Linked DNA regions of Homo sapiens. The protein of the gene in region 2 purifies or fractionates together with the protein of the main gene of each other region. This does not show direct contact. Each region holds a gene or a part of one and is shown on either strand. Other genes may lie near its edges. The genes, in order: RNF166, TNKS, SH3BP5L and RNF114.

Evidence for each region.
Region 1: the proteins of TNKS (region 2) and RNF166 purify together in Homo sapiens (affinity purification with mass spectrometry; 4 studies listed by BioGRID and IntAct, with this or other methods). This does not show direct contact.
Region 3: the proteins of TNKS (region 2) and SH3BP5L purify together in Homo sapiens (affinity purification with mass spectrometry; 3 studies listed by BioGRID and IntAct, with this or other methods). This does not show direct contact.
Region 4: the proteins of TNKS (region 2) and RNF114 purify together in Homo sapiens (affinity purification with western blotting; 2 studies listed by BioGRID, with this or other methods). This does not show direct contact.

The regions. Positions count from the first base shown.
Region 1 is NC_000016.10:88,696,388-88,703,411, forward strand, and holds the end of RNF166 (E3 ubiquitin-protein ligase RNF166), read right to left. Parts: exon of another isoform or gene 6,403-7,024; intron 5,032-6,402; coding exon 4,875-5,031; intron 4,564-4,874; exon of another isoform or gene 4,554-4,563; coding exon of another isoform or gene 4,233-4,553; exon of another isoform or gene 3,347-4,232; intron 3,346-3,346; coding exon 3,233-3,345; intron 2,699-3,232; coding exon 2,584-2,698; intron 2,223-2,583; coding exon 2,115-2,222; intron 1,729-2,114; coding exon of another isoform or gene 1,547-1,728; intron 1,247-1,546; coding exon 1,181-1,246; 3' UTR 114-1,180; downstream 1-113. UniProt on the Homo sapiens protein: E3 ubiquitin-protein ligase that promotes the ubiquitination of different substrates. In turn, participates in different biological processes including interferon production or autophagy.
Region 2 is NC_000008.11:9,705,889-9,712,912, forward strand, and holds part of TNKS (poly [ADP-ribose] polymerase tankyrase-1), read left to right. Parts: intron 1-298; coding exon 299-365; intron 366-922; coding exon 923-1,109; intron 1,110-2,482; coding exon 2,483-2,604; intron 2,605-4,066; coding exon 4,067-4,158; intron 4,159-4,253; coding exon 4,254-4,332; intron 4,333-7,024.
Region 3 is NC_000001.11:248,815,906-248,822,929, reverse strand, and holds part of SH3BP5L (SH3 domain-binding protein 5-like), read left to right. Parts: intron 1-1,668; exon of another isoform or gene 1,669-2,527; intron 2,528-6,045; coding exon 6,046-6,108; intron 6,109-6,267; coding exon 6,268-6,396; intron 6,397-7,024. UniProt on the Homo sapiens protein: Functions as a guanine nucleotide exchange factor (GEF) for RAB11A.
Region 4 is NC_000020.11:49,939,386-49,946,409, reverse strand, and holds part of RNF114 (E3 ubiquitin-protein ligase RNF114), read right to left. Parts: intron 6,115-7,024; exon of another isoform or gene 6,010-6,114; intron 4,850-6,009; coding exon 4,699-4,849; intron 1,029-4,698; coding exon 922-1,028; intron 275-921; coding exon 160-274; intron 1-159. UniProt on the Homo sapiens protein: E3 ubiquitin-protein ligase that promotes the ubiquitination of various substrates. In turn, participates in the regulation of many biological processes including cell cycle, apoptosis, osteoclastogenesis as well as innate or adaptive immunity.

The DNA.
Region 1 (7,024 bases), on a different chromosome or scaffold from region 2:
AGGCTGTACCCCCAGCGTGAGCTGCCTGGGGAGGACACAGCCGACCTCCAACACAGACAGCAGCTGGCGATTCCACACCGTGGAGCACAAAAGCCAGTCGAGGCTGCTAGAGATGCTCTGAGACATTTTATTTAAACTTTTTTTTTTAAAAAAAAGACAGCAATAATTAATGCCAAGAACAGAAAAGAATGTTGACGTGTTGCCCGGCCCGCCAAGCGGGCCCCTGCCCAGGCCCCCAAGCTCTGCCACCACTGGGGTGCCGTCCCCTCCCGCAGCGGGGCACAGTCAGCTTTGAAGGTGACAGCGGGCCAAGGCCAGGACTCTGGGTGGAGGAGGCCCCTTCTCTGCCGGCCCCGCCTCTGCTGGGAGCAGCCACAGCCTGTGGCTGGGGTGCTGGGATTTCTTCCTGGTCATCAAAGAGAAACGTACAAACCTCAAGGACCCAGACACACAGTGGGTGGCCAGGGCAGACCCCACAGCAGACCCCATGGCTCGCCTGAGCTCTGGCAGCTGCCCCACTGCTCCTTCCATCCTTGCCCCAATCCCCCAATGCTTGTTTTGATTGTTTTCTTAAAAAATATAATTTTGTAAATGTTCCATAAAAATACTATTATTCCTAGTCAAACACAGATATTGCAATATGAAGAGTAACTGCTCTGTCTTTGCTCTATAAAACGTGAAAAGATTATCACACTGGATAATATAGAAAAGATGCCAGGGTTCCTAAGTATCACAAAAGCCAGTACCAAATGCGCAAGGTGGAAGTGGGGCCGGGGCAGGGTCGGGCTGGGCAGGGCAGCAGCCTGGGTTCCTCCCGGCTCGACTGCGGAGCGCGACTCGCGCGTCGGTCCCTTCTTCCCACGAGGGGGTATCATGGCTTTGAAGAGACGGCGGCAGCTCCAGGTCCCAGCGTCCAGCCCTGCCCAAGTAGGCCGCCTGCTCGGCCAGAAGCACCGAAGAACCCAGCGACGCCGGTGGGACCAGGCGGCCCTGCTCTGGCGGCCTCGGCGGCTGGCCCGTATTCAGGCCCGGAGGCTCGGCCCCGGCTCCCCTTCTGCGCGGGTGCAGGCTCCTCCTGTGAGCTCAGTCCGGTGAGGTGCGCTCCCGAGCAGGTGCCAGGTGCGACACAGGAGCGGGGACATCCCTGACCCCAGACGCAGGCGGGTGGCTGCGCTTCCCTTCAGTTCTCAGAGAGAGACAGGGCCAGAGCAGCCTGGAAGGCGGCCTCCTCGTCAATACTGTAGTCCTGGAGACAGGAAGGAGAGATGCACCGGGCTCGAGGGAGACAGGAAGGAGAGGTCCCCTCTGCCCATCACCCACACAGGCGTGTCCACCCTTCCTGCCTCCCTCCAGCAGGACACAGGAAGGACCCAGCTCCACTGTCCCCACAGGCTCGGGGCCTGCACGGTCCTCTGGGGGGTGAGAAGGTGAAGGTGTGTCCATCACCCGCTGGGTACGGGGGCACTCGGAATGGATGGCTGCTGGTTCAGGTCGGACTCTAAGCCCGGGGTTTCCGAGGTGAGCAGGCCGGCCAGGGCTCCCTGACCTCTAACAATTTCCATCCTGAGGCAGGCGGAGCGTGGGTCCCGGACGACTGGCAGAGGGAGTGACAGCCATCGCCAGGACTGTTAGCCAGGGCCAGGAATGAACAGGGCGGCGCAGGGAGGGGCCGCACCAGGAGTGAGGAGTTTGTGCGAGGGTCTGCAGGCCCGGGGGCCAGGTGTGTGCCTGACCCGCGGCGGGTGGGAAAAGGAGACAGGGCTGGAGTGTTCGATGTTGATGAAAGTCCTTCCCGCGCTCTCTAGAAAGCTTCCAGAAGGAAGCCTGGCTCACCCTCGAGGGGTTCTGTGGGGTGGGCAGGCAGGGACCTGCCCTGTGCGGTCCATGTCCCCGAGAGGCCTGGGCACCCTCTAGTGGCCACTCAAACTCAGCTGCCATCACTCCCCACCTGCAGGCAGCCCCCACAGAACCTGGGGGAATGTGGCCACCTGAAACGAGGCTTCTGTTTCTGGCTTCCTCTGAACCCTGCGGACCCTGAGGCTGGCGAGGGGCCCGAGCAGGAGGAGGGTGGATGAGGAGGGCGTGGGGGAGGACGGTGCTGGCGGGATGCCTACCACAAAGGTGTCGTAGGAGAACTTGTGTCGGTGAAGCAGGTGCTGCAGGAAGTTGGCGCTCTTGTAGCTGGGGTCCCCCCAGGGCATTGCCGAGCAGATGGGGCACACCTGGAACAGGCACTGGGGTCAAGCCGAGCCGGACCGCGGAGAGGCGGGGTAGCCGCAGTAGGACTGGGGGCCCTCCACTGAGCCCCGTCAGTGCTGCCTCAGCCTGGGAAGGCACCCCAGACCTGGAGGCGCGTGTCCCGGTGACAAGCGAGTTATTCAGTGCGCGTCACCCTGAAGGACTCATGGACACTCCCCGGTTTCCGCCAGGTGCTGCTCGGGCAGCCAAGTTCCCACCCTGGGTCCCAGGAGGCCTTTGTGGCCTGGGCACCCCCGGACTCGCCGCGAGCAGGCTCCTGGGCCTTGTACTGTCCCCCACAGGCCTCCCCTGGCGCAGGCGTCGCTTGGGGCAGGCACTGCTCACCACGCGGTTGGGGTCGCTGCGGTGGCTTTCCACACAGTGCTTCACCAGCTCCTGCTGGTCCAGGTTGCGGGCACCACAGTACGGGCAGGCGAAGGTGGACCTGTTGGGGATGTTGCTGGCGGGGCGGGGGTAGAGTGAGTGGCACGGCTAGGTGTCTAGGGGCTCTGCCTCCCCGCTTCTCTCAAACACAGGCGTGGCCCCAGGCCTGCCCTCTGTAGGCTGCAAGAGCGTGGCAGTGGCTGGGTGCCCCCCGTGCCTCTGCACGCCATGGCCTCCTGAGGACACACCCAGGACCCTCGTCCACCCCACACAACTAGGCCAGCCAAACGGCAGAGACTCTGCTGGCGCTGCCCTGGCAGGAGCCGTCTCTCGGCCCATCCACCTGCTGGGAGGCGATGTGTGGGCCCGGCCTGCGCCCTCCTCCTGCTCCCCACAGCTGAGCTGTCCCTACCCCAGGGGGCCTGGTGGGTATGCCAGGGAGGGCAGCACAGGAGCCTTCCTGCAGGGTGGCAAGGAAGGTCCACTTCCCCAGAGTGGACCCGGCCCCGGGTGACTCCCCCAGCCTCTCTGGGATGGGGCACTGCGCTTGCTCCCAGAACGAGGAAACCGCCGAGGACAGTTCCTCTCCCTTGCCCGGCAGCGTGCCTACCTGGGGATAGGCTGTGATGTGGGCACCACGGGGACGAACTTGGGGCAGTTGGCCATCTGCTCCTGGACCTTCAGGCAGGACGAAATGTGCACTCTCATCTTTGCCAGGGTCACCTAGGAGACAGGGCAGGGAGGGCAAGGCGGTCCTGAGAATCTGGAAGGGCCGTCCTGGGGAGGCCGAGACCTCAGGTGTCCAGGACCAGAGAACTGTAAGCAAGCGTCTGTGTTGCCAGCAGCAGGGGGACCCGGTCCCTTCTGCTGCTAAAACAATCTCAGGCACTGAGCAGCCACTACTCCATGGCCAAAAGCAAGTCACTGCAGGACAATCTGGCCGAGGGCAGAAACCTGGCTGGAGAAGGGTAGCGGGAAACAGGTAAGGAGATCTCTGGCGCCTGCAGGAGTTCAAATACTTGCTCCAGAAAAAGGAAGAGGCCAAGTGGAGGCCACTCAGAAATGCCCCAGGCTGGGGACAGACGCTTCGTGTGACTGAGGGGCAAGCTGGGGATGCTTCCGTGGAGGCAGGGCGCCATCCTCCACCCACAGCACACCCACTGTCCAGGGCAACAGGCTGCAAGATCGCAGGTGTCTGAGGCCCTCCTGGACTCAAGCTCGGCACCCAGCTCTGCCTAAGGGCTGCTGGACTCCGAGGGATGCACCACATTCCAGCAAGGTGCCGGGAGACACAGCCGCATCTGAAGACCCAGATTAGAGAACGGAGCTGCTGTGGGATACGGGAGGCCGCTCTGCATGTGACCGGTTCTGATCCTTTCTGGCTGCCCAGGAGAGAAGAACTCTGAGCAGGGAGAGACGGGAGGTGCCCAAGCACCCAAGACCACAGCCTGCTCAGCCGCACCACTCTGGAGTCCAGGGCAGCCCCTGGACATCTGGACCTTCGACCTCGAGGACAAACCACCGAGGGGCCACGTACTAGTGTGAGCGCTTCATAGAACTTATTCACCTGAGATGTGGCAACGTCGGGAAACGCAAATGCAAAATCACCTCTAGCTGCTCAGTCCTCCGGAAGCCACTGAAAGAACGGGGCGCTGGCTGGGGCCTCTCCACCCTGAAGCGGATGTGCCAGGGAGGGCCACGGGGCACGGGCCAGGCACCAGGACAGGATGGACATGGGGGCCAATGAGGCCCATGACAAGCTGCAGGCCCTTACGCTGCTCTGATGTGGGTGTGGCAGTGCCCATCAGCCCGGCTCTGGCCCTCCTGGCAGCTGGAGGGTGCTCGGCCCTTAGATGTCCTTGACTGTGCCCGCGGCCCTTGTGACCTTGGAGCCCCCAGCGCCGTCCCCGGTATCGGCTGGCAGGGGAAGGCTGCATTGGGAAGGTTTCAGCTCAGCCCCCTGGTCCTTACCCTGGCCACAACCCACGTGGGTTCCCCTGGCCCGGGCTAGGCGGCTCTGACAGTGCTACCCCCACCGGGCTGGCCCCCCCGTCAGCCGTCACCACAGGAAGTGAGAGATGAAGACGGGAGGGGAGGGAGGCGCCGGGGCTGGCTTCCTGGTGCAGGAGCAGAGACCGCGATTACTCAACAGGAAAGAGAGAGGGCCCCGGCCCCCACCCTCTGCAGAACCCGTGGGCTGAGGCTGCCCATCAAGTGACCCCGGCTCCAGGGCGGCCCAAGCAGGCGGGTACCTTTTTGTTGCAGCCTCGACAGGGCGCTTTGTAGGATGAGAGCTGCTTCTCCACGTGGGTGGCCTTGTCCACCTTCTTGGGGTCGAAGGGCAGGCGGCAGAGTGGGCACAGCGGGGATGGCACCTGCAGGCAGGGCTGGAGACACTCCCCGCAGAACCTGCAGGGCACAGGGGCCTGAGTGCCAGCCCGCCCCTCGGGTCTCCCGAACCGCAGGCCTTGCTCGGGGCCCTTCTTAGGACCCAGCATTTGTGGGGTCCACAGGGGCAGCTCCCCCTACCGCTGTCGCCGTCTCTGGAGATGGTCACTCCTATGTCCGGGGCCCACCAGCTGGATGGGCCCCATCTGGCTAAAGGGTGGCCCCGGTCCCTCCTGACAGTAGGCCCCTGTGGTTTCTGGCTAGCGGCAGAGCCGTCACTATGGCTGTCCCCGCGAGTGGGCCAGAGGAGCTCCCATAGGCAGGAGGCCCCAGCTCGGGCTACCAGGTTCACGTTCACGTGGCGACAACACCTGGGTGGGCTGTGGGGCGCAGGGACAGCCCGGGGACTCTGGAAACTCTCCCGGCTCCACACTCTGGGGGATAAAACCTCAAACAATCGTGGGAAAGGAAACGGCCAGGCCCCAGGGGCTCCAGATGCACTGGACAGGGAAGGGCCAAAGCTAGCCAAGTGGCAGCACATCCTGAGGCTGGGTGGCAGTCACCAGGCTTGGGACAGCTTCGCAGGCAGGAGGGGGTCCTGCTCCATCTGGGCGGAGGCTCGGGTCCTGGGCACCCATGGGCCCTGGCTCTTGGCACTGCCCCTGGGGACACCACATCGTGAGGACAGACTGAGCGTCCCACAGCCCCGTGCGCACTCCGGGCTCCAGCAGCAGGGGCTTCCTTGGGCTCGCACACCCTCCCGCTCTGCAGACGCACACAGCCCTTGGAGGGGTGCACCACCAGCCAGTGGGAGCACCAGGCGCGAGAGCCCCCAGTGCAAACACAGAGAAGGAGCTTAATACTGGGGCAGCCACATCTGGCCTTGTGAGGAGCACTGTGGGGACAGCTGAGCTGCGGCGAGGAGCTGGAACTGAGGCAGAGCCCCCCAGTCCCAGGAAGGCTACAGCACCCGGGGGTGTAGCTTCCCTTCTCCCTGGCAAGGCCACAGGGCTGGTACAGGAGCCCCACTGGACAGAGGGGCTGTGGGCAGGCCCTGGGTTCACAAACGACTCAGCTGAATTCAGGGCCAGAGTCCTCTTTGCTGTCAAGAGATTTCCACATCCCTCAAGAAAAGGCCCTTTCTGCAAGGAGGAAGTCTGAGGGCCTCAGGCAAAGGTGGCCAAGCAGGCATCTTAAGTCCCTCCTGCTGTCCCCCAGGCCCTCTTTGCCACCACTGGATTCCCACAGAGCCACCACCTGGCTGGTGGCTCCCACATGAAACTTCGTGTGAGAGAAAGCGGGACTCAGCTTGAGACCCGTCAGAAAGTGAACAAGCCTTTTTCTGCAGAGTAAAGAGGTCGCTCACTTTACCCACCTCACCCGAGTTCTCACCAGGCGCCCCAGCAGATATTTCCAGGGTCATCCCTGGCACTGACCCCTGGATTTGAGCCGGGGGGGCCGCCTACTTCACCCGTTCACGGGAGGAAGGTGCTGGCAAGATGGTCCACCTGGGGAGGCCTCAGGGGACCCCCATACTCAGGCACTCATGGCAGGAGAAGCGGAAGCAGCTCAGGTGCCCGTCGGTAAACGGATGAAGAGACGGCGTGGCGTGCACACCCATGGAAAGGGCGTTCGGCCGGGAAGAGGCGTGCAGCCCCACCACGCACCGGAAGGCCTGGAAAACAGTGCAGGGCAGACAGCAAGCACGTCCCACCCGTGTCGTGGGGGTCCACTCACGCTCAACGTCCAGCAGAGAGAAACCCAGTGACCAGAAAGCAGACGGGTGGGTGCCAGGCGAGGGGGAGAGTCCTGGGTTTCTTTCTGGAGTGGGAAGAATCTTCTAGAATTGCATCGATTGTTGCATAATTGCAAACACACTGGAAACGACTGGATGGTGCACCTCCTGAGTGAACCCTGAGCTGCCAGAGACCAGGCCGGGGCTCGGCTGCACAGCACGGCCACGGGCTGAGGGGAAGGAAAAGGGTCCCAGGCAGAGCTTGGGAAGAGAGGAAAG
Region 2 (7,024 bases):
TGTAAATACTTAATATATAATGCATGCATTTGTCAATTAGCATATGATCTTCCTTTCGCCAAAATGTTCTTCTATTTGGTATTTTTTTCATTATCTTCAAGGATTATATACAAAAAACAAGATAAATACAAAAGGTGTGAACATAAGCTATGCTTTGAATTCTTTTATTATTTTATTAAATACTTTTAAATATTTTAAAATAATTGTATTGGGATTTATTGGATTTTATTTCTTAGTACGACATGGATAAATAAGTTGTTTGAAATTTAAGTATTTTAATTTGCCTCTTTTCATTTAGTGGACTTGTGCCTCTTCATAATGCATGTTCATATGGACATTATGAAGTCACAGAACTGCTACTAAAGGTAAGAGAAATTCAGAATATTGAGCATCATTTACTTTTTTTTTTTTTCTTTACCTTGTCATGACTTTCCATACTTTCGGCCTCATGAAAGTTTGTTTAGTTCTTTGGGGTTTTTTGTTTGTTTGTTTTGAGACAGGGTCTTGCCCTGTCACCCAGGCTGGAGTGCAGTGGCACATTCACAGCTCACTGCAGCCTCAACCTCCCAAGTTCAAGTGATCCTCCCCCTCAGCCTCCCCAGTAGCTGGGATTACAGGGGTGTGCCACCACGCACAGCTAATTTTTATGTTTTTTGTAGAGACGAGGTTTTGCCATGTTGCCCAGTCTTGTTTTTTTAGATTTTAAGAGAATAAAATACGTTTTTAAACATATTACCATTGCCTTAAAATTTTTAAAACATTGAATTTAATTTCAGCTGTTTTTGAAAGGTGATATTGAAGAAATTAAAACACTTATTTGAACAAGTTATAACTGAAATTTACAAAGAAATAAATGTCTTTTGAGTTTTATTTGATCCAGCAAAATGATTACTGACCTAAAATGTTTTTTTTCTCAATTCAGCATGGAGCTTGTGTTAATGCCATGGATCTCTGGCAGTTTACTCCACTGCACGAGGCTGCTTCCAAGAACCGTGTAGAAGTCTGCTCTTTGTTACTTAGCCATGGCGCTGATCCTACATTAGTCAACTGCCATGGCAAAAGTGCTGTGGATATGGCTCCAACTCCGGAGCTTAGGGAGAGATTGACTTGTACGTATTTATATCCCGAAATCATTATCGCATAAATTGGAATATTTAATTTCTGTTGAGTTTTATCTACCTTAAATAATAACCTTCCATTCTTACAAGCAGACTAATTCATAATCCTCATTTCTAATTGTATACTTTTCTTCATGAATTCCATGGGAATGTTATATACAGACACTTTTTGTATATATTGTATTTATTCGAGCCTAGTTTTAATTCGTATGTTGAAGCTCCTTTTTTGGTTTTTTGAAGGCTAATGAGGATGAGTCAATCAGCATCCATTTCTTGGATACTTGCAATGTGGCAGGCACTAGAAATATAGCAGTGTACAAACCATTAAAAAGCTCTGAGCTTCTGGGGCTTACATTCTTGTGCTATTGACAGTGATAGGTATCTAGCATTATTGAAACCTCTTATGGGCTTACGTTCTTGTGCCATTGACAGTGACAGGTATCTAGCATTATTGAGCCCTCCCCATTTCCCGAGCCCTGCAAGGCTGCACAATCATATTTTTATTTGTCATGTGTGTTATGACCCAAGTATAATCACTTTCCCATATTTAAGTGAGATTTTAAAAATAATTAGGTTGAGGTCATCTTCTGAATATATTACCAATATATACATGCAAATGTTTTTTAAATAAACTTTTTGTTTCAGCATAGTTAAAGATATAAAAATATTGGATTCTCATTCATGCAATTAATTTAGATACAGCTTTTCAAAAAATCTCTCACCTGGTTATGAAAATAATAAGCTATTAATTGTTCTTTGAAAAATTTTCAAGCTCTGCATTTCTCCCATATTTTAGTCCTTTCCTTTTCTGTGTCAAGACCTAATCACCATTGATATTTTGGTAAATATTTCTGTAAATGTTTTCTATACCATTACTTATGGTGTACTTATGGTGGCAATAGTAGTAGCAAGAGTAGTGACAATACCAAAAATAATGCATCAGCCTGTCCTTTCTTTTTTGAATTTTCATGTACCACTGTATACTTTCATGTCAGTGTATGTAGACCTATCTCTTGTTTAAGAGCTAGAAAGTGTTACAGCATATGTGCACACAAATTATTTAACTGGTTTCCTTTTGGTGGACATTTAGGTTTCCTGTTTCAAAATTTTGCTGCAATAAGTATCTTTATAGGTGTATCTTTATGACTCTGAGAGTGTGAAACAGTCTTATTTCAGAGCATACATACTTCACATTAATCTACATCCTCATCTTTTGCATTTTTATCATCATATTATCACATTGCTGCTGTTGTTAAAATAGAGAAATTCATAAAATAATAATATTCCTACTTATTTATAATCATGCTGAAGATTTTTATACATTTTTACATCTTTTTTTATGTCAACCATTGTTTCATTGACAGATGAATTTAAAGGTCATTCTTTACTACAAGCAGCCAGAGAAGCAGACTTAGCTAAAGTTAAAAAAACACTCGCTCTGGAAATCATTAATTTCAAACAACCGCAGTCTCATGAAACAGCACTGGTAAGATTTTATTGTTAATCTATTCCCTGTGTCTATAATAATAACGTAAGCACAAAATATGATTTTCATTTCAGAAACCTTAAAGTAACTTTAGTATCTGAAATGCCAGGAATTTGCATGTTAATTTTGGTTGCATTGATTTTTAAACTTAGTTTGGGGGGTGATTCTTTTCATGGGTGAGAGAATTGACATTTGCTCAACCTCAATTTGGAAATTATTTTACCTTTGTCTTCCCCACCTCATTATAACAAATCCACTTTTGTGGCCAGTGCTTTCATAAACTACAAGATATGATTTTTCAATAGAATTTTTTTTTCTTATGTTTGCTAGATAAATACTAGATTTCCTTCTGTAGAAGATTAAAGTATATTTTTAGATATTTGCATTATCTTTTTGAGCAATTGTATTCAAAGAACTGATTATATTCATGGTAGAAAAATGGCAAGATCATGAATTTTTTGTTTGATACTATACAAATTATTCTTAAAACTATCCACGTTTTTTTCTTCAAATGCACTTTCGGAAAGATTTATTTATTTTCTTTGTCATTGACACATTAAGGCTCAGCTAGAGAGTGGTTAGTGATCGCTCCTAAATTCAGAATTTAAGCATATGTGATGCCTGCATCACAGACCTTAAATATACCTAATTAATATTCTTACGTATATTTGACACAAAAGATCAAACGTTTGTCAGTATCTGCATAAAACAACATTAAAGGATTGACCAAACTGAAATAGGCTAACTATATGTACACTTAAATACATGTCTCTCAAACTAGGGTTGAGATAGATTCAAGCTACACGGTGTTATGCTAGGAGATATTCATAGCCACAGAATAAACCTGACCCACTTTTTTGGAGTTTTCATTTTATTTAGTTGAAAGTAGTTTTTTATTTTTAAATTTTAATACGAATATTAAAATGAAGCAGAATAAAAAAGTTGTATAAATATTATGTTAAAACCTAAAATTTCTGAGAATATTTTTCTCTAAACTGCTTCAGTTCTATCATTTTCTTGCTTATCCTTGGGCATATAAACGTCTCCTGTAGTGCTGGGAGTACCTCTGTAGAAGAGCTTAGAAATACTGACTTGTGTGGCTGATGGCCTAATGAAAGATTGAGTAACTTAGTTATAGATTTCTGTAGCGTTGCAGAGGCATACGTATTATGATGCTCTCCATGGAATATATAGTGAATATTTATTGATTGGCTAAGCCAAAAGAAATAAGATCTCTCTTAATGTTTAAGAGCATAATTTCACCTTGGTTTAAACGCTTACGTTTTGTATTTCCACTATACGTAGAAAGAATATGGATCATCTCTGTGATATAAAACATATACATATGTTCTGATACTCTGAGATAACAATGTTTTAAATGGTCAGCAGATACTGTTCAATTCCAAGAGCTACTGTACATATGGAAGTGTATTTTATTAACTTGGTTTTGTTTACTTTATAGCACTGTGCTGTGGCCTCTCTGCATCCCAAACGTAAACAAGTGACAGAATTGTTACTTAGAAAAGGAGCAAATGTTAATGAAAAAAATAAAGAGTAAGTATAATTGCAGAAGGAGTTGTTCAGTTCCTAAAGAGGAAATGCAATAAAAGAGAGACAATTACCTTTTCTTTCTTTCCTCTTTTCTGTAGTTTCATGACTCCCCTGCATGTTGCAGCCGAAAGAGCCCATAATGATGTCATGGAAGTTCTGCATAAGCATGGCGCCAAGGTGAGGCACACACCTGAGCAGAGTGCCAGACTCAGCACTGAGCAGCCAGCTGCTCTTAACACTGCTTCTCTCTCTCCGATTTTTCTGAAGAAACTAATTTTATAAAGGACTATTAGTTCGTACTTAAATTCATGGATTCTCCTATAAAGCTGATTTAGATCTTGTTTCTAATAAAAATAATTACCCGTGTTTCTTGATCCTTTAATGTCACCCTTCTGTAAAGCAACAAAATATAGCTATAGTCATTTGAAATAGATTTCATCTTTACATTACTTTCAGTTAATACTATACGGATATATTTTGATAGTGTCCACTTGAATAACAGTTTATCAGAAAATAAATTATGTTAAATGATAGCATCAGAATAGCTCTACTTATTCTAAAAAACATTTGTGGCCAGGCACAGTGGCTCACGCCTGTAATCCCAGCACTTTGGGAGGCCGAGGCAGGTGGATCACGAGGTCAGGAGATGGAGACCATCCTGGCTAAGACGGTGAAACCCCGTCTCTACTAAAAATACAAAAAATTAGCCGGGCGTGGTGGCGGGTGCCTGTAGTCCCAGCTACCCAGGAGGCTGAGGCAGGAGAATGGCATGAACCTGGGAGGCGAAGCTTGCAGTGAGCTGAGATTGCGCCACTACACTCCAGCCTGGGAGACAGAGTGAGAATCTGTCTCAAAAAAAAAAATTGTATGCCTTCAGATTTGTAATAATTTTCTCAACCTCTACACTAAAGAAATATGACATATTTAATAATTTTTACTGGCATTTTCTGAATGGTGTAGTCTGAAACTTTGTCAAGCACTTAAGAGAGGAAAGAAGCAAACTGGTTGTTTTTTAGAGGTGACTTGAAATTATAGATTTTTTCATTCTCAAGAATGTATATTTCAAAGCAGTTGTCTCCAAAGTAGGGTATAGACTCCCTATGGAGCATACAAGATGCCCTGTTGGAAAAATCCTAGCATTTCAATTTATAATACTTTTATTTAAGAATAAGGAAATTCAGATTTACCAATATTGAATACAAAGATGATGCCAGCACTCTCACTAGGTCCACGTGTCAGCCATTGTGACTCGTGATGTCAAGGTTTCCTGAGGTAAGAGTGGGACTTGTTAGTATCGAGGGATTGACAGTGGCAAACTCACTTGTTTGTTCCCTTTCAGCATATTTTGGCATAGTGTACTTTACTTGTGTCCAAATGAGTTGAATTTATGGATATTATCCTAAATGGTAGAACTTTTATAAATATCATACTTGATCAGAGTAGTGACCCTGACAAGGGACACAGGGAGTGACCCTGACATGCTTTTATAGTGTAAAAAGGTGGTCTGGTTATTTTGTGAAGTAGTATTTTAAGGTGTTGTCATAGTTGTGTTCTTTTTAATGAAAATAAAAGGGTTCAAAATTTGTTAATAGTTCTCTGAGGACAAATGACCATGACTTGCATGTAGATACCCTTTAAAAAGGAAACATAATCAGATCCTTAAAGGTAAAAGTTACACACTTTAGGTAAATGATAAAATAACTGCTTTTTTAAAAGAAACTTTAAAAAATGAAGAGAACGTTTTGAACATAGATTTTTAGAAAATGTTCACTTTTCTGTGATTTTGCTGAAAAATGATATAAATGAATCACCCAGCCGTCATATCTACATAATTTAAACACATAAAAACAGAATTTTCTCACCTGTTCAAAAGCCTTCCTTAATTTGGTTTTAGGGTAGATTTTGAATCTATTCAAAACATTGTAATGCAGCACTTCCTAATAACTTCGCAAGAACATCAGTAAAGATGGAATTTTACTACAGAATTTCAATGAAAGCCTTAGCATAATTAGTAAATTACATTAAAATTAGGCATTCTGATTGAGTAGGCATAGTTAACAATGCATTTATTTCATTGGCTCCATGAATCTGTATGAAATCTTTGCAACTAATATAGCCATTCAAACTAATTATCAAAAATGAACTTAGAGCCACGTGTAGTGGCCCGTAATCACTCCTGTAATCCCAGAGCTTTAGGAGGCAAAGGCAGAAGGATTGCTTGAGGCCAGGAGTTCGACACCAGCCTGGGCAACACAGCAAGACACTATCTCTACAAAAAATTTAAAAATTAGCCAGTCGTGGTGGTGTGCACCTATAGTCCTAGCGACTCGGGAGGCTGAGGCAGGAAGATCACTTGATCCCAGGAGTTTGAGGCTGCAGTGAGGTATGATCATACCACTGTACTGCAGCCTGGGCAACAGAGCAAGACTCTGTCTCTAAAGAAAAATGAAATGAACCTAAAATTAAACCCTCAAATTCCTAATATCACAATTTTTATAAGTTTTTTTAAATGTTTAAACTACAGTCAATGGATATTTTCTAGCATAAGTAATTAAAATATGTTTTGGACAGGTACCATAGCCTATGCCTTAATCCCAGCACTTTGGGAGACTGAGGTGGGAGGATCGCTTGAGCCCAGGATTTTGAGATCAGCTGGGCAACACAGGCCAACCCCGTCTCTACAAATAATAAAAAAAAATAGCCAGATGTGGTGGTGCATTCCTGTAGTCCCAGCTACTCGGGAGGCTGAGGTGGGAAAATCACTTGAGCCCAAGAGGTCGAGGCTGTAGTGAGCTGTAATCATGCCACTACACTGTAGCCTGGGTGACAGAGCAGTACTCTATCTCAGAAAATAATAATCATGAAATCT
Region 3 (7,024 bases), on a different chromosome or scaffold from region 2:
CATGTTGGGAGGCCGAGGCAGGTGGATCACCTGAGGTCAGGAGTTTGAGACCAGCCTGGCCAACATGGTGAAAACCCGTCTCTACTAAAAATAAAAAAAGCTAGCCAGGTGTTGTGGCGGGTGCCTGTAATCCCAGCTACTTGGGGGGTTGAGGCAGGAGAATTGCTTGAACCCAGGAGGCGGAGGTTGCAGTGAGCTGAGATCTGCCACTGCACTCTAGCCTGGGTGACAAGAGCGAAACTCCGTCTCAGAAAAAAAAAAAAAAGCAGTTCCTCAATGTTATACTGACAGTGCATAAATAGAATATTCTGTCATCACTGACTCTTCTATCAGATGAGCTCTATGAGAGTTGGAGTACACTGAGGTAGCGTAAGACTTACTTTGCCTCCAGTGAACTTGTGATGTCGCTGGTGCAGGAAAGGTAAAGCAGACCCTCGTCTCTCTTGCTAAACTGCACAACACGTTGTGGAATGTTGTGGGTTGTATAGGGAGGAAAGGTCTAGTAATAGCTTCCCTCATTTGATGACACAGGTGTGGGTACGCCAGTGCTCTGACCTCAGCAGGGAGTCAGTGTCTTCTTGCTGTGTGAGAGAGGCAGCCTGGCTTGAGGGGCACCCTTCACGGAGGAGGCCGGTGGCATTTTGCCCTTCTGTGCTTGGGCTTTCAAGATGAGGAGGAGATTGGGGTGTTTGTCTTTCGAGGTCCCTTTGAGTGTTGACAGTTCACTAGACCATGCACATTGCTCTGATCATGTGTTTCAGTGCTTTAGGTGGGTGTTCATTTCTCTGGATTCTCAGTGCATTTACTGGGTTTCCATCCACCGTCCATAAAAAGCCACCAGGGAGCTTCAAAAATACCCTTACCTGAGCCTTTCCAGACATGTGGATTCTCTTAGTCTGGGTGGGGTGAGAAGGGATTCTGATGTTACAGTCAGAGCCAAATCCACTGGGCCAGGTATATCCCAAAGGTAGAGCGCCTGTTTCGGTATTTTCTGAGGCTCCCGGAAATGGCTGTCCTTCGGATGAGGCCCTGTCTGACCTGGGGCTGGGGCTCCTTTGCAGGCAGGCAGCTCCATGGCCATTTATGGTGGGATTCCTCTGGAAGTTAGAAGGAAGTCAGCTGGTGCCTACCTGGAGCGTGCTGTCCCTCCAGGGAAGGCTGCTGGCTGTGTCTCCTTGTCATGATCTTAGTGGAGTTCTTTTGAGTCCTCCAGGCTCATCCTCAGCTTTCCGAGAGGGTTCCAGTGGAGGGAAGAGGAAAGGAGCGTGGATCTAGGATGGACCTGGGTCTGTTCTGTGACTTTCTCAGCCCCCTCTTAGTGGTTGCATTCTTTCCTCAGATGTGAGTGCTCTCGTTTACCTGCTCCTTTCCAAACTCTCTAGGGTGACTTTGCAACCTCTGTGACCTCATCTAGAAGTATGGGTTTAGCTTTCACAGGACAGTCATCACCCTGGCCCCAGTTACCATTAGTTTGAGTCTTTTGATGGTCTGCACTAGGTGGGGTGGGAGCATCTGCAGCCTGAGTCCCCATGCCTTTGATTCAGTGTCCTGGCATCCTGGGAATCTGACTGCTGTGCCCTGGGAAGGTCACCCTCCCTGCTGGCTGCTGGCTCACTGATGGATGATGCACGTTGATTCAGACTTTGTCCTCCCCAAATTCCGTTTCAGCTGAGTGCCAGGAGTCCCTGGTGAAGCAGGCCAAATGGAATGTGTTGCTGACTGCCCAAAACTGTCCCAGGTCCTCAGTGGATTCCTGCTCAGCCTTTCCCTGGGTGTCGCCTAGGTGGGCTATCCCCCTCCCTCCTGTGGTGACCTTGCCCTCCAGGCTGCTTTGCTCCCCAGGCATCTTCTTGTCCTGTTAGGGAGAGCTTTGTGACTCTGAGGGGACAGATCCCATCAGCAGATGGCTTTCTGTAAATTGCTGGAGGTGCCACTGGGAAGCTAGTTCCCATATAGAAAGATAATGCCCACTCCTGCCACTTGCCAATAGCAACAGCTCTTCTTGTCCTTTTAACAGTAGTAACAACTTATGCTGAGCCATCCAATCCATTGATGATCTTGTCAGGAGCTGGAAGTTGATGACTGGAAGCATTTGAGGCCATGGAATCCAGTGGGGATCCCGTCTTGGACTTTGATTTGCCACATGAACATTGCAGGGTGGCCTTTACCAACTGACCCCCCACAATCAATGTTTGTTGCATTTCCAATCCCTGTCCTTTTCCTACGTGGGCTGTGGTTTTCCTAGATTACAGCACTTCTTTCTTTACTGAGATGTCCTTCCAGTGGTGTCCTCATTCCCAGGAGGGTGGTCACAGTGGAAGGAAAGTGAGATCAAAGGTCGGTCCTGGATCCAGACCCAAGTCTGTCACTAATTTTCCGCCTGGTTGTTTCTCATCTATCAAATGCAAAGTTGCTGAGAAAGAATATTCCAGCAGGAGGTGCTGAAAGAACTGGTCACTCGTCTCCCAGATAGCCTAAAAGCCCCTGTAGGCCTCGTCAAGCCCCAGGAAGCTGGGCCCCCAGGGAGGTAGGTTGCCTTTCAGCTTGACAGACATTGCCTTTTTAGGGCCTGTTGGGGTGATCGTGTCAGTTGCTGGTGATGTCTCTGTTCGGAAGGCACTGTGAAACTTGGAGTTCCATGTGTCTGGTAGTGTTGATGCTGACCCTATGCCTCCTCTGGGGCCCTGAGCTGTGTTGGCTGCCTGTTCTTCCAGAATGGTTGTTATTTTATGGACACTGGGTTGTGGGACACTGTAGATGCATCTACCCAAATACAACAACTTCTAGACCTTCGCCACCCAACACAGGAGCCACATGCCACTGTCTAGGTTGAGATGTGTCACAAGAGTCAAGTGCATACGGATTGTGAAGACTTAGTTTAAAAAAGTAAAAGTATGGATAATAATATTATTTTATGTTGATCACATGTTGAAATATATTTTGTATATATTGGGTTAAATGTATTTTTATAATTTCACTCTTTTTTTAAATTTTTTTACTTTTAAAAAATGTGGCTTCTAGAATTAAAAATTCCATGTGCAGCTCCTGTTACGTTTCTGTTGAATAAGTCTCTTCGAGAAAATTTAGAGCAAGCTTTTCCAACCCGTGGCCTGTGGGCCGCATGCAGCCCAGGATGGCTTTGAACACGGCCCAATGCAAATTTGTAAACTTTTCTTAAAACATTATGAGATTTTTTTTTGTGATTTTTTTTTTTTTTTTTTTTTTTTGAGACTGAGTCTTGCTCCTTCACCCAGGCTGGAGTGCAGTGGCACAATCTCAGACCACTGCAACTTCCGCCTCCCAGATTCAGGTGATTCTCCTGCCTCAGCCGTCCCAGTAGCTGGGACTACAGGTGTGTGCCACCATACCCAGCTATTTTTTTGTATTTTAGTAGAGATGGGCTTTGCATCATGTTGCCCAGGCTGTTCTCAAACTCCTGAGCTCAGGCAATCTTCCCACCTCGGCCTCCTGAAGTGCTAGGATTACAGGTGTGAGCCACTGCGCCTGCCCACGATTTTTTTTTTTTTTTTTAAGCTCATCAGCTGTAGTTAGTGTTAGTGTATTTTATGTGTGGCCCAGGACAGTTCTTCTTCCAGTGTGTCCCAGGGAAGCAAAAAGATTGGACATCCCTAGTTTAGAGCCAGATTTGTGGCCCTCCTTAGGCAGGGTCTACACTGTTGTAGGTAGGTGTGTGCATTTTCATATCCTCATTCCTCGTTCCATTACAGGTTTCTACCTTTGTGTTCTTCCTGTTACTGTAATTAACATGTCAAACCATTTCCTGTATTCTTACCTGCTGACCCAGATCTTTTCAGGATCAAGGCAGGGGATGGGGGGAGGATAGAAGAGGTAGAAGGGACTAAAAGGAAGATTGTGCATGTCAGCCTGACTCCCTCACTGGGTTGCTGAAAGGCCCGAATGAGGTGAGTGGGGGCCAACATCACGGCCATATGAGTGGGAAGTGATTGTGGTGTCACTGCCAAGTGCAAGTCATGGGTCTGGGCAGCAGGCACATGCTGGGCTGGGTCTCTCTGGCCTGTCCAGCCTCCTGTCCAGAGACAGCAGGGGCTGGTGAAGGCAAATCCTATAGCTAGGCACCAGGTATTTCCTGGCACAAGGCCCTTGGCACAGACCAGCACTGCTCCTCAGTAGTGTCCTTAGCTCACCAGGGGCTCTGGGAACTTTTGTGTTTTCTCGGGCAAGGGAGGATGACTTGAGGCCAGTACCCCTCTCAGCTCTCTTCCATTTCATGGAAAGCCCTGGATGGTTCTATTGCTTCTCTCTCCAGTCCTTCCAGGGGCCAGGAAGGCACTCAAACCAGCTTGTCCAGCAACTTTTCCCCAGGACTCTCCCTCCCTCCCACAGGATCTGCTCTATAGGGACCTGCGGTCATGGTCACCCATTGCCCAAGCAGGCCAAAAGGCTTCTTGGACTCTATACACTTTCCTGATCTTGACCTTAGTCATCCACCAAGCCCCTGTGATTCTGTGTCCTGCGTTGCCTTGGGATCTGCCCTCTCCTCTGCCACCTGGAATACTATAGACAGCCTCCACCTTTTTTTTTTTGTTTGTTTTTTGTTTTTGTGATGGAGTCTCACTGTGTCGCCTAGGCTGGAGTGCAGTGGCACGATCTGGGCTTACTGCAATCCCTGCCCCCCGGGTTCAAGCCATTTTCGTGCCTCGGCCTCCCAAGTAGCTGGGATTATAGATGTGTGCCACCACGCCCAGCTAATTTTTGTGTTTTTGCTAGAGACAGGGCTTCACCATGTTGGCCAGGCCGGTCTTGAACTCCTGGCCTCAAGTGATCTGCCCACCTCTGCCTCCCAAAGTGCTGGGATTACAGGTGTGAGCCACCATGCCTGTCCCAGCCTCCACTTTTGTCTCCCTGGCTCCCCCAGGCTTTCGTTACATTGGCACCAGGCTCTGAGAGACCCTTTTGCCATTGCAGAAAGTCCTGGTACTACCTCCCATAGTGCTGTAGCCTTACTGACCTTCTCACCTGCCAACTTGTCTGCCCAGGGTACCTGCTCCCCTTTGGTTCCTTGGCCCTTTGTTCTTCACTGGCACTTTATTTTTTTGAGACAGAGTCTCGCTATGTTGCCCAGGCTGGAGTGCAGTAGTGTGATCTTGGCTCACTGCAGCCTCTGCCTCCCAGGTTCAAGTGATTCTCCTGCCTCAGCCTCCCAAGTAGCTGGGACTATAGGTGCACGCTGCCACACCCGGCTAATTTTTGTATTTCTAGTAGAGACAGGGTTTCACCATGTTGCCCAGGCTGGTCTCAAACTCCTGACCTCAGGTGATCTGCCTGCCTCGGCCTCCCAAAGTGCTGGGATTACAGGCGTGAGCCACCTTGCCTAGTCATTCACTGGCACTTTTGTGTCTATGAAGTCCTTCCAGCTGCTGAGCAAGTGTTCCAGGCATCCTACCCTGACCTTCTGCTGCCCAATTAGGTGACCTTGCTACCCAGAGAGCACCCACACCCACCCCTCACAAGGCTGCACATACTGCCCAGGACCTGCTGCTGACTTGCTGGGTTTCCTTACAGGCTGCCACCTCTATGTCCTGAATTCTCAGGTCTCACGGTCCTGAGAGGTGATAAGTGTGCAGTAAACATGTGCTGACTGAGTGGCCCTGCCCTGGCCCAGGTGGCCATCCTCTCGCAGAGAGCGAGCCTTCAGGTCCAAGGAGACTCCCTCAGTTTGAGGAAGTGTTGCAATCTCACGGAGAGAGTGAGGGCTCACCACAACTTCACGTTGTGCATATTAGTGTTGCATTCTCCAAACCTCAATTTCTTCATCCTTGAAACTGGGGTTTTACTACCCAATACAAGGTAGAGTTGTGAGGATTACGTGAGATTGTATGTATCAGGTCCCTGATAGACAAGAAAGCTTTTGGCAATCTCCGTATCTTCTTTCCTTTCCTGAGTGTCTCACCTCATTTCCCTGGGCAAGTGGGGCTCTCTCTCTCTGTGTTGCTCCTGCCTTGCATGGTTCATTCAAGGCTACTTCCTTCCACTGCACTAATTTGCCACCCCTCTCTGTGGCAGGAGGAGTTGGAGCACCTGAACCAGGCCAGCGAGGAGATCAACCAGGTGGAACTACAGCTGGATGTGAGTGTCCTTTTCCTTATGTGCTTGGGCTGGTCCTTGGAAGTATCTCCATCTGTCTCTTTCCCAGATTGAGGCAGTGGCGGTGGGAGGGGTGTGTCTGAGAAACAAGAGGGGCTGGGACCCAAACATGTGCCTTTCCTCTGCCTTGTTCCTTTCCAGGAGGCCAGGACCACCTATCGGAGGATCCTACAGGAGTCGGCGAGGAAACTGAATACACAGGGTTCCCACTTGGGGAGCTGCATCGAGAAAGCCCGGCCCTACTATGAGGCTCGGCGGCTGGCTAAGGAGGTATGGCTGGCTGACCACGTTTGAGGAAGGCTACGTGCTGAGCCTGGCCCTGGATTCTTCTGTCTCTATATGGAGTGAGAGACAAAACACCAGACCCTGAGGGCAGAGCCCTGGGCTAGACCTGGCTGGTCGGAACCAGCTCTGTGGGCTCAGGAGGTTCCTTTACCACGTGGGCTCTGGGCTTATGGTCTATAAAATGGTGAGGGTGGCTGTGGGAGAATATTTAGTTCAGCCCTGCTAATGTTTAAGTGCCTTCTGTGTATCAGGAATCAGGCTTTAGGGTATATCAGATATGTCAGTTCTAACATCCTGTTGTTTTCATCTGCGCCCATTTCCTCTTCCCTTTGGTTCATGTCTCTCTTCTGAATCTTTTCTTTGCTTACTCCTCACTCTTTTCCCCATCCCACACCCCTTTTTTCTGTAACAAATTACTTTTAACAAATAATATGTGTTCACCATTGGAAAAACATAATAAAACAAGAAGGAAACAAAAATCACCCAAAATCCTACCATGCACGTTTCATGCATTTTGTTTCCTGGGATTTGTTGTCATCCTGTATGGTGAGGTGACAGATACAGACAACTGCCTTGGAAGAAGAGTTTGTTCCCGAGAGGAGGGGACATCCAT
Region 4 (7,024 bases), on a different chromosome or scaffold from region 2:
GTACTATAGAGCATGGTTAAGCAAATATGGTAAAATGTTAACAATCTGTCAATCTAGGTGAAGGGCACACAGGAGTTCATTCTACTAATCCCGTCATTTTTCTCCAAGCTTGATCCTTTCCCTTAATGAAGTTTAAAAAAAAAAAAAAAGGTTACTCACCACAGATTTGGTATCCGTGCTATGGAATAATTTGCAGTGTTCCACAAGTCCTTCCTGATCAAAGTTCTTCTCAGGACAGTAAGGACAAGGAAAGGTGTAACGGTTTGGAACATTCCTGGAAGGTGAAACACAGGAAAAAAGAAAACTTTTCTGTGAGTACCTTTCCATTAAACTTCAACCACAGTACACTCCAAAAAGGAGCAAAGCTCACCAAATGTGTAATGATAAGGATGCTGATGATCACTTCAGACTCAGGTCAAGTGTTGTGAAAATAACAGCTCAGCTGGCCGGGCGTGGTGGTTTACGCCTGTAATCGCAGCACTTTGGGAGGCCAAAGCAGGCGGATCACCTGAGATCAGGAGTTCAAGACCAGCCTGACCAACATGACAAACCCTGTCTCTACTAAAAAATACAAAATTTAGCCAGGCATGGTGGCAGGTGCCTGTAATCCCAGCTACTTGGGAGGTTGAGGCAGGAGAATCGCTTGAACCCGGGAGGCAGAGGTTGCAGTGAGCTGAGATTGCACCACTGCACACCAGCCTGGGCAACAGAGCGAGACTCTGTCTCAAAAAAGAAAAAAAGAATATAGCTCAGCTAACATCTGAAGTGAACACCAGAGTCCTCCCTTGCATACTCCTCCCAAAATACTTGTATCAGCTTTAGCCAGCATAACAATTCATACAACTAAACCCCTGGGCATGCAACCTCTTTGTATTAATAGCAAGAGATGACCTCCACCTAAGGGGAGACTGAGTCATTTACCTTGGCTGAAGAGATGCATCCTTAATGGTGGCCTTCACACCTTCCATGATGTAATTCTGGTATTTGGAACAAGTAGCCACGTGGGACCGGATCTTGGACAGGAAGAACTCAAATAGGAAGAATCAGAGCCCATAAGTTAGTGAGGACCTTGCAACAGGCAAAATATAGTCCCAAACAAGGGCACAAAGAAAACTAGACCTACACCACCCTGGCAAATAATCTCACCAAACTCCTGACTACGCTGATGGGGCTGAAACCCTGATTATTGCAGATTTCCCATTAATACCAAGGCTGCTATTTTATTCGACTAAATCAGGATATCCACTTCCACTCTAAAATAACTCTCCTAGAGGTTTGCTCCTATTCATGATAGGCTGTCTGCTCACAGACAAGCTCCAAATCTAGGATGTTTTTAAAAGTTTTCTATACTAGCATTTAAACTAGTCTCCTTACAGCAAGCCAAAAACCACATTCTGTTATGTGCAGCAGAGAAAAGTGATCCTTTAGGTAAAACATATAAAAGCCACTAACCCTGGTTAAAGTATCTATCACCAGCCTCTGAGAAATAATCTTTAAAATCTAAATTCTCTTTTTTTTTTTTTTTGAGACAGAGTCTCACTCACTCTGTCGCCCAGACTGAAGTGCAGTGGCACCATCTCGGCTCACTGCAACCTCCGCCTCCCGGGTTCAAGTGATTCTCCCACCTCAGCCTCCTGAGTAGCTGGGATTACAGGTGTGTGCCATCAGGCCCAGCTAATTTTCATATTTTTAGTAGAGATGGAGTTTCACCACGTTAGCCAGGCTGGTCTCGAACTCCTGACCTCAAGTGATCTGCCTGCCTCAGCCTGCCAAAGTGCTGGGTTTACAGGCGTGAGCTACCACGCCCGGCCCAGCCTTTCATATAAAATCTAGGCTGTGCAACAGTAAAACAGAAAGAGAAGAAAACCCAGAGAATAGTGCTTCATTACAGGTTTTCTAAAAAGAAAGAAAGTTTTAAGAATTGAAGAAAAGAGGGAAGATAAAGGAAAGAAAAACATTTTCTGAGGCATGCCAACAGTACAATCACTAATCTTGAAAATGGAGAAAAGCAAAAGCATACAGTAAAACAAACAAAAAGCCCATCATGGGCGGAGTACGGTGGCTCACACCTGTAATCCTGAGGGAGGCTGAGGTGGGCCATCACTTCACGCTCCCGAGTTCGAGATCAGCATGGGCAACATGCAAAACTCGTCTCTACTGAAAATACAAAAAAATTAGGCAGGCGTGGTGACACATGCCTGTAGTCCCAGCTACTTGAGAGGCTGAGGTGGGAGGATGGTTTGAGCCTGGGAGGCAGAGGTTTCAGTGAGCTGAGACCACGCAATTGCACTCCAGCCCGGGCAACAAAGCCAGACCCTGTCTCAGAAAAAAAACAAAACAAAACCAAAAACCACATTATGCATGCATAAATAAAGATGAAGAGACCGGGTGCAATGGCTCATGCCTATAATCCCAGCATTTTGGGAGGCTGAGGCGGGCGGGTCACGAGGTCAGGAGATCGAGACCATCCTGGCTAACACAGTGAAACCCTGTCTCTACTAAAAATACAAATATATATATATATATATATATATATCTCTGTGTGTATGTATGTGTGTGTGTGTGTGTGTGTGTGTATATATATATAGCTGGGCGTGGTGATGGGCACCTGTAGTCCCAGCTACTCAGGAGGCTGAGGCAGGAGAATGGCGTGAACCCAACAGGCGGAGCCTGCAGTGAGCTGAGATCACGCCACTGTACTCCAGCCTGGGCAACAGAGTGAGACTCCGTCTCAAAAAAAAAAAAAAAAAAAAAAAAAGAAGACAGTAGGGAATTGTATTTCAATATTTTGAGTTTCTAAAAGTAAACTTCAAAGGGGGAAAAAAATGCTCCAATATTTGAGCTCCAGCTTACCATGATGATTGTCTCACCTCCAGCTCAAGAACTTGACTTTAAGCTACAAACTGAGGAATCCTCAATTTTTTTTTCCTTTTTTTGTAGAAACTGGGTCCACTATATTCCCCAGGCTGCTCTCAAACTTCTGGGCTCAAGCAATCTTCCCACCTCAGCCTCCCAAGGAGCTGGGACTACATGCATACACCACTACACACAGCTGGTTTTGTTTGTTGGTTTGTTTTGGTATATACAGAGTCCCACTATGTTGCCCAGGCTGATTTCGAACTCCTGGGGTCAGTGATCCTCTTGCCTTGGCCTCTCCAAATGATAGGATATAGGCATGAGCCACCATGCCCAGCCTCAAGAGTGAAGCCCCCAATTAAGACACAGAAAATAGCCCTATTCAGCATTGAAATGGCCCTACTATGCATCCCTAATACTAAATCACGCTGAAAAGGAGATGGTAAGGTATATTCTTACTATGGGCATCCATACCGAAGTGTTAAAAATAATGAAACTGACATGCAAGGCTGTCCAATATGTAAGAGAAAAAAAACCTGAAAAGTGGAAAAAAAAAGTTGGGAATGAGTGTACATTTAAAAAAGTGAAAAAAGTTGAAGAAATATATATATTATAGTATAATCTCATTTTGCAAAAATCCTACAACTTGGTTGGTAAAAATTCTACAGTGTTTGTCAAAGGGCAGAAAATGTTATGCAGCTTTCGAAATTAAATCACTTTTTTTTTCCTTGAGACAGGGTCCGGCTCTATCACCCAGGATGGAGTGCAGTGGCACGAACTCAGCTCACTGCAACCTCTGCCTCCTGGGCTCAAGCCATCCTCTCACCTCAGCCTCCCGAACAGTTGAGACTACGGGCACACACCACCATGCCCTGCTAGTTTTTTGTATTTTCAGTAGAGCCGAGGTTTCACCATGTTGTCCAGGCTGGTCTAGAACTCCTGGACTCAAGCAATCCACCCACCTTGGCCTCCCAAAGTGTTGGGATTACAGGCATGAACCACCTTGCCAGGCCTTAAGTTGAACGAATTTTGAAGTAATCTCTGGAATGAGGAACAAGCCTACATTATTGTGTACTTTTGTATGGTCTGCAATTTTAAAAATTTTAATGATTCTAAAATCAACAAGGCTGTGTATATCTCTTGGAAAATAAGACAACAGTATTTCTCCTTTCCAGTAGCAGTTATAACAGGTATGAAAATAAATATACTTGACTCTGATTATACAAGAGCATGGATGCATTTCAAATGTTAGCTATTGTTATTACAATCCAATGATTTCATATTGACTTTTTTTTAAGAGACAGGGTCTTGCTGTCAGCCAGGCTGGAGTGCAGTGGCATGATCATAGATCACTGTAATCCCAAACTCCTGGGCTCAAGTGATCCTCTGGCCTCTGCCTCCTGAGTAGCTGGGCCTACAGGTACATACCACCACACCCGGCTAATTTTATTTTTTTGTAAAGATGAGGTCTCACTATGTTGTCCAGGCTGGTCTCTTAACTCCTAGCCTCAAGCTCTTGCCTCGGACTCCCAAAGAGCTGGGGTTACAGGAATGAGCCACCGCGCCTGGCCATAATTGATCTTTTATAGGAAAAAACTGGGATAACTGATTTCTATGGCTTTCAAACCTAAAATATATACTTAACCAACTCTTAAAAAAAGAAACAAAAACCAGTAAGGTTATGAAAACAAACCAGCCCAGCCATCACCACAGGTAATTGGCATGCACGCGTGCTGTTAGTGACCTAGTCATGCTCTAACTTCAGCAACAACATGGCAGCTGTACGTTTTACCCCAACTTATCATGGAAAGACATGGACTCTTCCACATCACTTCCACATACATTCTTACGGCAGCCATGGCAAGAAGTCTCTGTGCTCTCGATCTGCCGCTCGAGCTCCACGGCTCGGACGCCAGGTGCCAGAGCGCTGCGACACACCCCACAGACAGGCTTCTTCGGCTTCAGACATTCCTGCAGGCATGCAGAGCAAAAGCTAGAACAAGACATACAGAGAACCTCTGTCACGCATCATGGAGACAAGACGACAAATATGGATCAACTTTTAAAAAGACATCAATGGATAATGGAGTAAAAAACAACTTGCTCTCTCCTCCCAGTTCAAATACTAAGTCCTTCCAAGCCAGAAAAAATGAGGGATAGGAGTGGACTACAAAGAACACACAACTACAGAAACAAATGCAAACTCCTGTGATAGACACAGTGAAGGTGTTAAGGTTGAGGCTTCAAGCCTTAGGCCCTGCCACTGAAGGATCTCAGTGGGGTTTCTTGAATCTCCATTTTTTCCTTTGTGAAATGGAGAGAGTAGTACCTACCTCTAGGACTGCTGGGAGGATACAGTTTGTATAGCAGACCCCTGGCAGAGTGTCCAGCCCTTACAAAACGCACCACAAACGGGAGCTGCTATCATTACAGGTGAAGGCAAAGCGCTACAGGAACATAAAGGGAAAATCAACTAGTGACCTGAGAAGGAAAGGGCTGGTAAGACTGCAGTGAAGGCTGGGAGCGGTGGCTCACGCCCGTAATCCCAGCACTTTGGGAGGCCAAGGCAGGCAGATCACGAGGTCAGGAGTTTGAGACCAGCCTTACCAACATGGTGAAACCCGTCTCTACTAAAAATACCAAAATTAGCCAGGCATGGTGGCAGATGCCTGTAATCCCAGCTACTCGGGAGGCTGAGGCAGGAGAATTGCTTGAACCTGGGAGGCAGAGGTGGCTGCACACTCCAGCCTGGGCAACAGAGTGCGACTCTGTCTCAAGGGGGGGGTGGAGGGGAAGACTGCAGAGACGGCATCTCTGATCAGCCTTAAAAGGGTTCAGCTCAGCCAGGCGCGGTGGCTCATGCCTGTAATCCCAGCACTTTGGGAGGCCGAGGCGGGCAGATCACAAGGTCAGGAGATCGAGACCATCCTGGCTAACACAGTGAAACCCCGTCTCTACTAAAAATACAAAAATTAGCTGGGAGTGGTGGCGGGTGCCTGTAGTCCCAGCTACTCGGGAGGCTTAGGCAGGAGAATGGCATGAACCCAGGACGCAGAGCTTGCAGTGAGCCAAGATCGCGCCACTGCACTCCATCCAGCCTGGGAGACAGAGCGAGACTCCGTCTCAAAAAAAAAAAAAAAAGGGTTCAGATGGATCCTTTTGTAGTTCATGAACCTGAGGACTGGGTGTTCATGTGCATGTGTGAGATGTGCCACCCTCGAACCTTGTTACAGATGTTGGCCCATTACCCCTCTGGCATTTTAAAAAAAGAGGTCAGCTAGCAGAGGAAGGGAAGACTATTCTAGGCCTAATTTAGGCTTAAAATTGATATGTATCTGAGGAAATAAAAATCTAACAGACTTTTCCTCATAAACAGTAGGGAGCCAGGAGTTTAAAAGGAAGGTATTAACAAAACAAGGCCAAATCCAGGTTTCAGAAAAATATCTCTGTGCTATCATGGAAAACAAAGTTTTGTTACTTTTTTTTTTTTTTTTTTTTTTGAGACAGAGTCGTGCTCTGTTGCCCAGGCTGAAGTGCAATGGTGCAATCTCGGCTCACTGCAAAATCTGCCTCCCCGGTCCAAGCGATTCTCCTGCTTCAGACTCCCAAGTGGCTGGGGTTACAGGCGCGCATGACCACACCCAGCTAATTTTATATTTTTAGTAGAGACGGGGTTTCACCACGTTAGCCAGGCTGGTCTCGAACTCCTGACCTCTGGTGATCCACCCGTCTTGGCCTCCCAAAGTGCTGGGATTACAGGTGTGAGCCACTGAGCCCAGCCCTATAGTTTTTTTTTTTTTTAGGTGAGAAGGTGAGAAGAGACAAAGTAGAAACCAAACAGATGGCTAAAGGCAGAGGATTGTGAGGGTCTGACTGAAGCAGCAGGGGATGAATTCAGGAAACCATTCACAGAAAGGTAGAATCAGGAGGACTTGATAACTTACTGACTTTGAAGAAAAGAAGTCAAAGATGACCGAGTTCCTATCCTGAAGCCTAGGAAGATGGTAATGCTGAGATAAGGCATACAGAAAGAATGGAGAAGACACCCTGGGCTACTTACCCAACCTGATAGATTAAGACAGTATAACCAAATCTGCCAGAAAGAACTAAAGATATATAATGAAAGGCCATCTTCTGAACACTTGACCATTTTCTACTGCCTCTAAGA